2 separate regions of the Homo sapiens genome follow, and region 1 is linked to region 2. The links come from fine-mapping of genetic effects on gene expression. A gene starts in region 2. The other region holds a variant in brackets. All regions are shown on one strand. Distances are between the middles of the regions. Region 1 overlaps MGC4859 (a long non-coding RNA gene). Region 2 holds the start of MGC4859 (a long non-coding RNA gene).

Region 1 (2,925 bases), 320 kb after region 2:
TGCAAAGTTTAAAGTATTTATTTATTATCTGTGTCTTTACAGAAAAGTTTCCAAATCCCTATAATGACTAAAACACAAGAGTGCTGAGAGAAGTACTGGCAGATACAACTTGAACCTGATTATGGTCCTTGCCTGCTAGCATTTTTCACTTTATCCTAAAGGCAACTGGAAGTTTCTGATGGATTTTAAGTGCAAAGATGAGGCTTTGTTTCACTAAGCATGTTTTGAGACTCATTAATGTTGTTCCTTATATCACTAATTAGTTTCTTTTTATTGCTGAATAGTGTTCCATTATATGAGTATATTATTCTTTGTCAATTGATATTTGCATTGCTTCACCATTTTTACTATCATAAATAACCCTACTGTGAGCATTCTTGTATAAAATGATTTTGTGGACATATGTTTTCATTATTTCAGTAAATACCCAGGAATGGAATTGCTGCATTATAGGATAAGTAGATGTGTAACTTTATGAGAAATTTCTAAGTCATTTTACAAAGTGGCTTTACCATTTTACACTTTTATCAACAATACATGAAAGCTCCACATTTTTTCTAAAATGTGATGGTAGTGTCAGTATTTAATTTTACTAATTCTGGTGAATGTGTAGTGGTACCTTATGAGAGTTTCTATTTATATTTTATTGATATCTGATGATGCTGAACACATTTTAATGTGTTCATTGGCTGTTTGTACATATTATTTTGTGAAGTGTCTGGTCATGTCTTTTACTCATTTTCTTTATTATTACTAAAATATTTACTAGGTTTTATTTACTTGCAATAGGTATTATTTGTTTTAAATTTTAGTTTTTTAATTGGAAATTGTCAAATTATAGTTGTGTATATTTACAGGGTACAAAGCAATGTCATAATTTATGAATACAATGTAGAAAAATTAAATCAAGCTAATTAACACATTCACTTAAAATATTTATCTTTTTTGTGGTGATAATATTTGAAATTTACTCTCAGCAATTTTGAAATGTGGAATATATTATTAGTTATGATATCACGCTGTGTAATATATCTCAAAGTAAAAAAAAATACTTATTTTTCTGTCTAATGAAGTTTTTCTACCCTTTCACCGTCATCTCCTTATCCCTCTCATCCCCCTCACTCCGTAGTCTCTGATAACAAAAAATTTGCTCTGCTTCTTTGAGTTCAATTGTTTCAGATTCTACATGTAAGTGAGAACATGCAGTATAGTGTTTGTATTTCCGTGCCTGGCCTATGTCACTTCGCATAATGTTCTCCAATTCTAACCGTATTGTCACAAATGACAAAATTTT[T/G]TTCTTTTCTAAGGCTAAATGGTATTCCATTGCATGTATATATATGACATTTTCTTTTTCCATTCATTTGTTGATGAATACTTAGGTTGATCCCACAACTTAGCTGTTGTAAATAGTGCTGCAATAAATATGGGTGTGCAAATATCTCTTCAACATACTAATTTTAAGTCTTTTGCATAAATACTCAGAAATGAAAGTGCTAGATTATATGGTCATTCTATTTTTAGTGTTTTTGTGGAGCTTCCTTATAATTTTCCATAATGGCTGTCCAGTCTACATTGTTTAGTGATGGGGATATGTTATGACAAATGTATTGGTAGATGATTCTGTCATTGTGTAGACATCACAGAGTGTACTTACAAAAACCTCGATAGTACAGCCGACTTCACACTTGGCTATGTGGTACAGCCTATTGTTCCTAGCTATAAACCAATACAGAATATTACTGTACTGAATACTGTGGACAATTGTAACACAGTGGAAAGTGTTTGTGTATCTAAATAATCTAAACAGCAATGATACAGTAAACATATGGTATATAAGATAAAAAACAGGATACATCTACATAGGGCACTTACCATAAATTTAGTTTGCAGGACTGAAAGTTGCTCTGGATGTCAGTGAGTGATGAGAGAGTGTGAAGGTTTAGAACATTACTGTCCACTGCTGTACACTTTATACACACTCACTTATGCAAATCTAAATTTATATTAAAATTTTCTTTCTTCAATAATACCTTAACAGCTTGCTATAAATTTTTACTGTATAAACTTTTAATTTTGATCATCCTTTTGACTGCTTTGTAATGACATGGTTCAAAACACAAATCGTACAGCTGTACAAAAATATTTCTATCTTCATAATCTTATTCTGCAAGCTTTTATCTATTTTAAATTTATTGTATTTTTAAAAATTTACTTTCTAAATGTTTTTGTTAAAAACTAAGACATAAACACACACACATTAGGTTAATCCTCCACATGGTTAGGATTATTAAGATGTCACTAGGCGATTGGAATTTTTCAGCTTCATTATAATCATACAGGAACCTTACCACATATGCTCTCTGTAGTTGACTGAAACGTCGGCATGCAGTGCACGACTGTGCTAATTTATGTTCCCAACAGTGTAAAAGGGTTCACTTTTCTCCATGTCCTCACTTATACTTATCTGTCTTTTTGATAACAGCCATTCTGACGGGTGTGAGGTGATATCTTACTGTGCTTTTCATTTGCATTTCCCTAATGATTAACAATTTTGAACATTTTTTCATATATCTGTTGGCCATATCTTCTTTTGAAAAGTCTATTCATATCCTTTTCTCATTTTTAAATTAGAATAATTATTTTCTTTCTACAGAGTAATTTGAGTTTTTAAATATATTTTGAATATTAACCCCTCAACAAACATCTGGCTTGCAAATATTTTCTCCCAATCCATAGGCTGTCTCTTCACTCTGTTGTTTTCCCTGTTGTGCAGAAACTTTTTATTTGAGATTTTATTTTTATGTAATCCCATTTGTCTATTTTTACTTTTTTTTTTTTTGTCTGCGCTTTGGGGGTCAAATCTAAGAAAGTCATAACTTATTTGTTTTTCCTTATGTTCTTTTAGTAGTCTCACAGTTTCAGGTC
Region 2 (2,925 bases):
GATTTGCTCATCATAAAACATAATCAAAAGAGTCAGTCTGTAGCTTGTTTATTGTGGAAAAGGGAGTCTACTTTACTCTGTCATTATCTTCTTTCTTTCAAGTGTGGTATCAAAAGAATTTTATACAAATAAGAAGGCAAATTTGGGTCAAATTTCCCATAAAAAGAATGAAAATAATGCCAAATAATGTGTTATTAAAGGGAAAAAAAACCCTTTCAAATGTCTTAATATCATAGTATCAGACAAACCTACTTTCCAAAATAGGCTCTCAGAGTTGTAAATTGTAATGTATATTCATTTTGATGGAGAGATTTATTAGAATAACAAATTTCAGGATTTTTAAATTGAAGAGAAAGATCTTTATCAATTATCATTTTTACCCTTCTTTTGGTAAACAAAGTTAAGGAAAATAGCATGATATTTCAAAGTATAATTTCACAAAACACATCAAAGCAATACCTATTTTATAAAACATGAGGAAAAATGACAGTCTTTCCTTTCATCTAATTTTAGTTTGTCATATTCTTTTTTCAGGTTTTCTTTTTTCTTTTTTTAAAGATATTAAAATAATTTATTTCTGTCACAAAAGGTCTTTCTCAGACACATCCTCCACTAATGGTGACATGGGGACTGTCTGTTCCCAGTGTTTCTGGATGCATGAGAATGGTAGGGTAAGAGAGAGAACAAAGCCTCTTAGTCCCTTTCTTTCTGCTACAAACACCTTAGGGATGCGAGTCCGGGGTGAGAGGAGAGAGGGAAAACCGCGGCTGGCCTTGCATGTGCCTGACTCAGTGTGCATGCCCCTTGCTGCCCAAGTCCCTTGTTGTCCATGTGCCTTGCTGTCTGCCTTCTGTCCCCGCAGAGCTGTGCAAGGAGACATCGTGACTTCTTTCTGTGTTGCTGACTAGGAGTCAGCCACTAGGTCCGCAGATAAGTCCTCCCAGAGTTGAAGTGTGAGAGAGCGTGAGGAGAAGCCCGCGGCGCAGTCTATGGCCTCCTAGGGGGAAGGGCCTTGAGGTCCCTGTCCTTCTCCTAACAGGCGGCGACGCAGCCATGGCCTTGCTGTCGTGGGAGTCCCAGACAGGGTAGGAAGGAGGGCCATAGAAAGGAGGAGGGCCGAGTGAACATGGAGTTTTGAAGGGGGAAACCATTTGTGGTATTTGAGTCCCGGAGGCATATGAAACCGCCCACAGAAGACACATTCCAAAGTCTTCAGTGGGAACCTGGGAGAGGGCAGAGGACTGCGCGGCGCTGGATGGGGTAGAGCGAGGAGGGTCGAGGAGGGGCGCCACAGCCCACAGAGCAGGCACCGACCTCACTGCGCATGTGCCCTGGGCGTCTTCCCGTCGGCCCCTTTGCCCACGTGGTGAACGCGGCGGAGCTGTGAGGGTGTGAGGGTCGCGCTCCTGCTGTCTGGACTTTTTCTGTCCTACTGAGACACGGCCGGTAGGTCCGCAGGCCAGTCTTCCCAGGGGTTGAAGTGTGAGTGAGTGTGAGGAGGAGCCAGCGGCCGTCTGGAGCATGGGGCAGCGTGGTCCGTGGCCTCAGAGGCCGATGGGTCTCAAGGTGATCGTCCTTCTCCTCGTGAGGTGGCACCGCCATGGGCCTTGTTGTAGTGGGGTCAGAACGAGGGAAGAAGGTGGGCCGCGTAGTTGAGAAGGCTCAGGTGAAGATGGGGTAAGTGCTGGGGGTGCTGGAGCAGGTATCGGAGTCCGTGGAACCCTCGACAGAGGACAGATTCTGGACTCCTCCGTGGCGACCCAGGAAGGAGCGGGGTGGGCATTAAGGAAGGGAACTGGAAACGCTGCAGGTTGGTGATCGCGGCCCTGAGGTCTGTAGAGTGCCCCGCAGAGGTGTCCAGTGAGGAGTGCCCAGCAATGTGTGGCAACTTCTCAACTTCACCGTGGAGGTTTGAATGAGCGGGGCTCTGCGTTCCAACGAAACTTGATTTTATGGGGGAAATGGGCCTAGCAAATGGGTGTGTGATAAAAGCCTTGATCACTGCAGTTTTAATTCTCTGGCTGTATTTTCCTAAATGTCTCCACGGAGGAGAGTTCAGTTCTGAAACCAAACCTTATCAGAAATATCCTGTATCTTTTGCCAGGAGCCTTAAGACATATCTAGTCAAAAAATGTCATTGTTACAAGAAAAAAGTATTTAAATGGTATAAGTGATCTAAGATATAGGTCCCAGAAAAGTTCAGTTCATAAGTCCTGAATTTCATTATTGGTTGAAACTTCTGGACAGATTATCTAAGGATTTCTTTGATTTTCTCTTGTACAGCTCTGAATTACAGCCTTCACTCCCAGAAATTTGTCTCCTAACCTCCTCCATATTGTGAGCTGTAGGGAGATCTGTATTTTATAAATGTTTGGGTCTCCCACAATTCCTGACTCAGAATAATAATAAATAATGAATGCTTATAGTATAGTTATATGACCATATTATATATCATAAAATACCTTTTTTTCCCCTAGGAATGAAAGGTCAGGTTTCAGTGGCAGTGAAGGTAATAGGCAACTACCCAGATAAAGTAAATAGAAAATAATTTATAAAGTGTAAAAACCAGATTGTTGAGTTATCTCAATTATTTATTTATTTTTTATTATACTTTAAGTTCTAGGGTACATGTGCACAACGTGCAGGTTTGTTACACATCTATGCATGTGCCATATTGGTGTGCCGCACCCATTAACTCGTCATTTACATTAGGTGTATCTCCTAATGCTTTCCCTCCCCCTTTCCCCCACCCCACAACAGGCCCCAGTGTGTGATGTTCCCCTTCCTGTGTCCAAGTGTTCTCATTGTTCAATTCCCACCTATGAGTGAGAACATATGGTGTTTGGTTTTTTGTTCTTGCGATAGTTTGCTGAGAATAATGGTTTCCAGCTTCATCCATGTCCCTACAAAGGACATGAACTCATC

Evidence for each region. PIP is the estimated chance that this variant, and not a neighbour inherited with it, causes the effect.
Region 1: its variant is the best candidate, but not a certain one, in a credible set for the expression of MGC4859 in nasal epithelium (TOPMed, PIP 0.50).

Annotation. Positions count from the first base shown.
Region 1 is chr7:10,460,874-10,463,798 of GRCh38, reverse strand. The region is part of intron 2 of MGC4859 (a long non-coding RNA gene); the gene reads left to right. Among named protein-coding and RNA genes, the nearest start is that of MGC4859, 320 kb to the left of the region's middle. The variant T/G (reference allele first, on the strand shown) is at 1,295.
Region 2 is chr7:10,778,403-10,781,327 of GRCh38, reverse strand. MGC4859 (a long non-coding RNA gene) reads left to right here and starts at 1,384. Exons shown (of 3, transcript NR_147499.1): 1 at 1,384-1,446.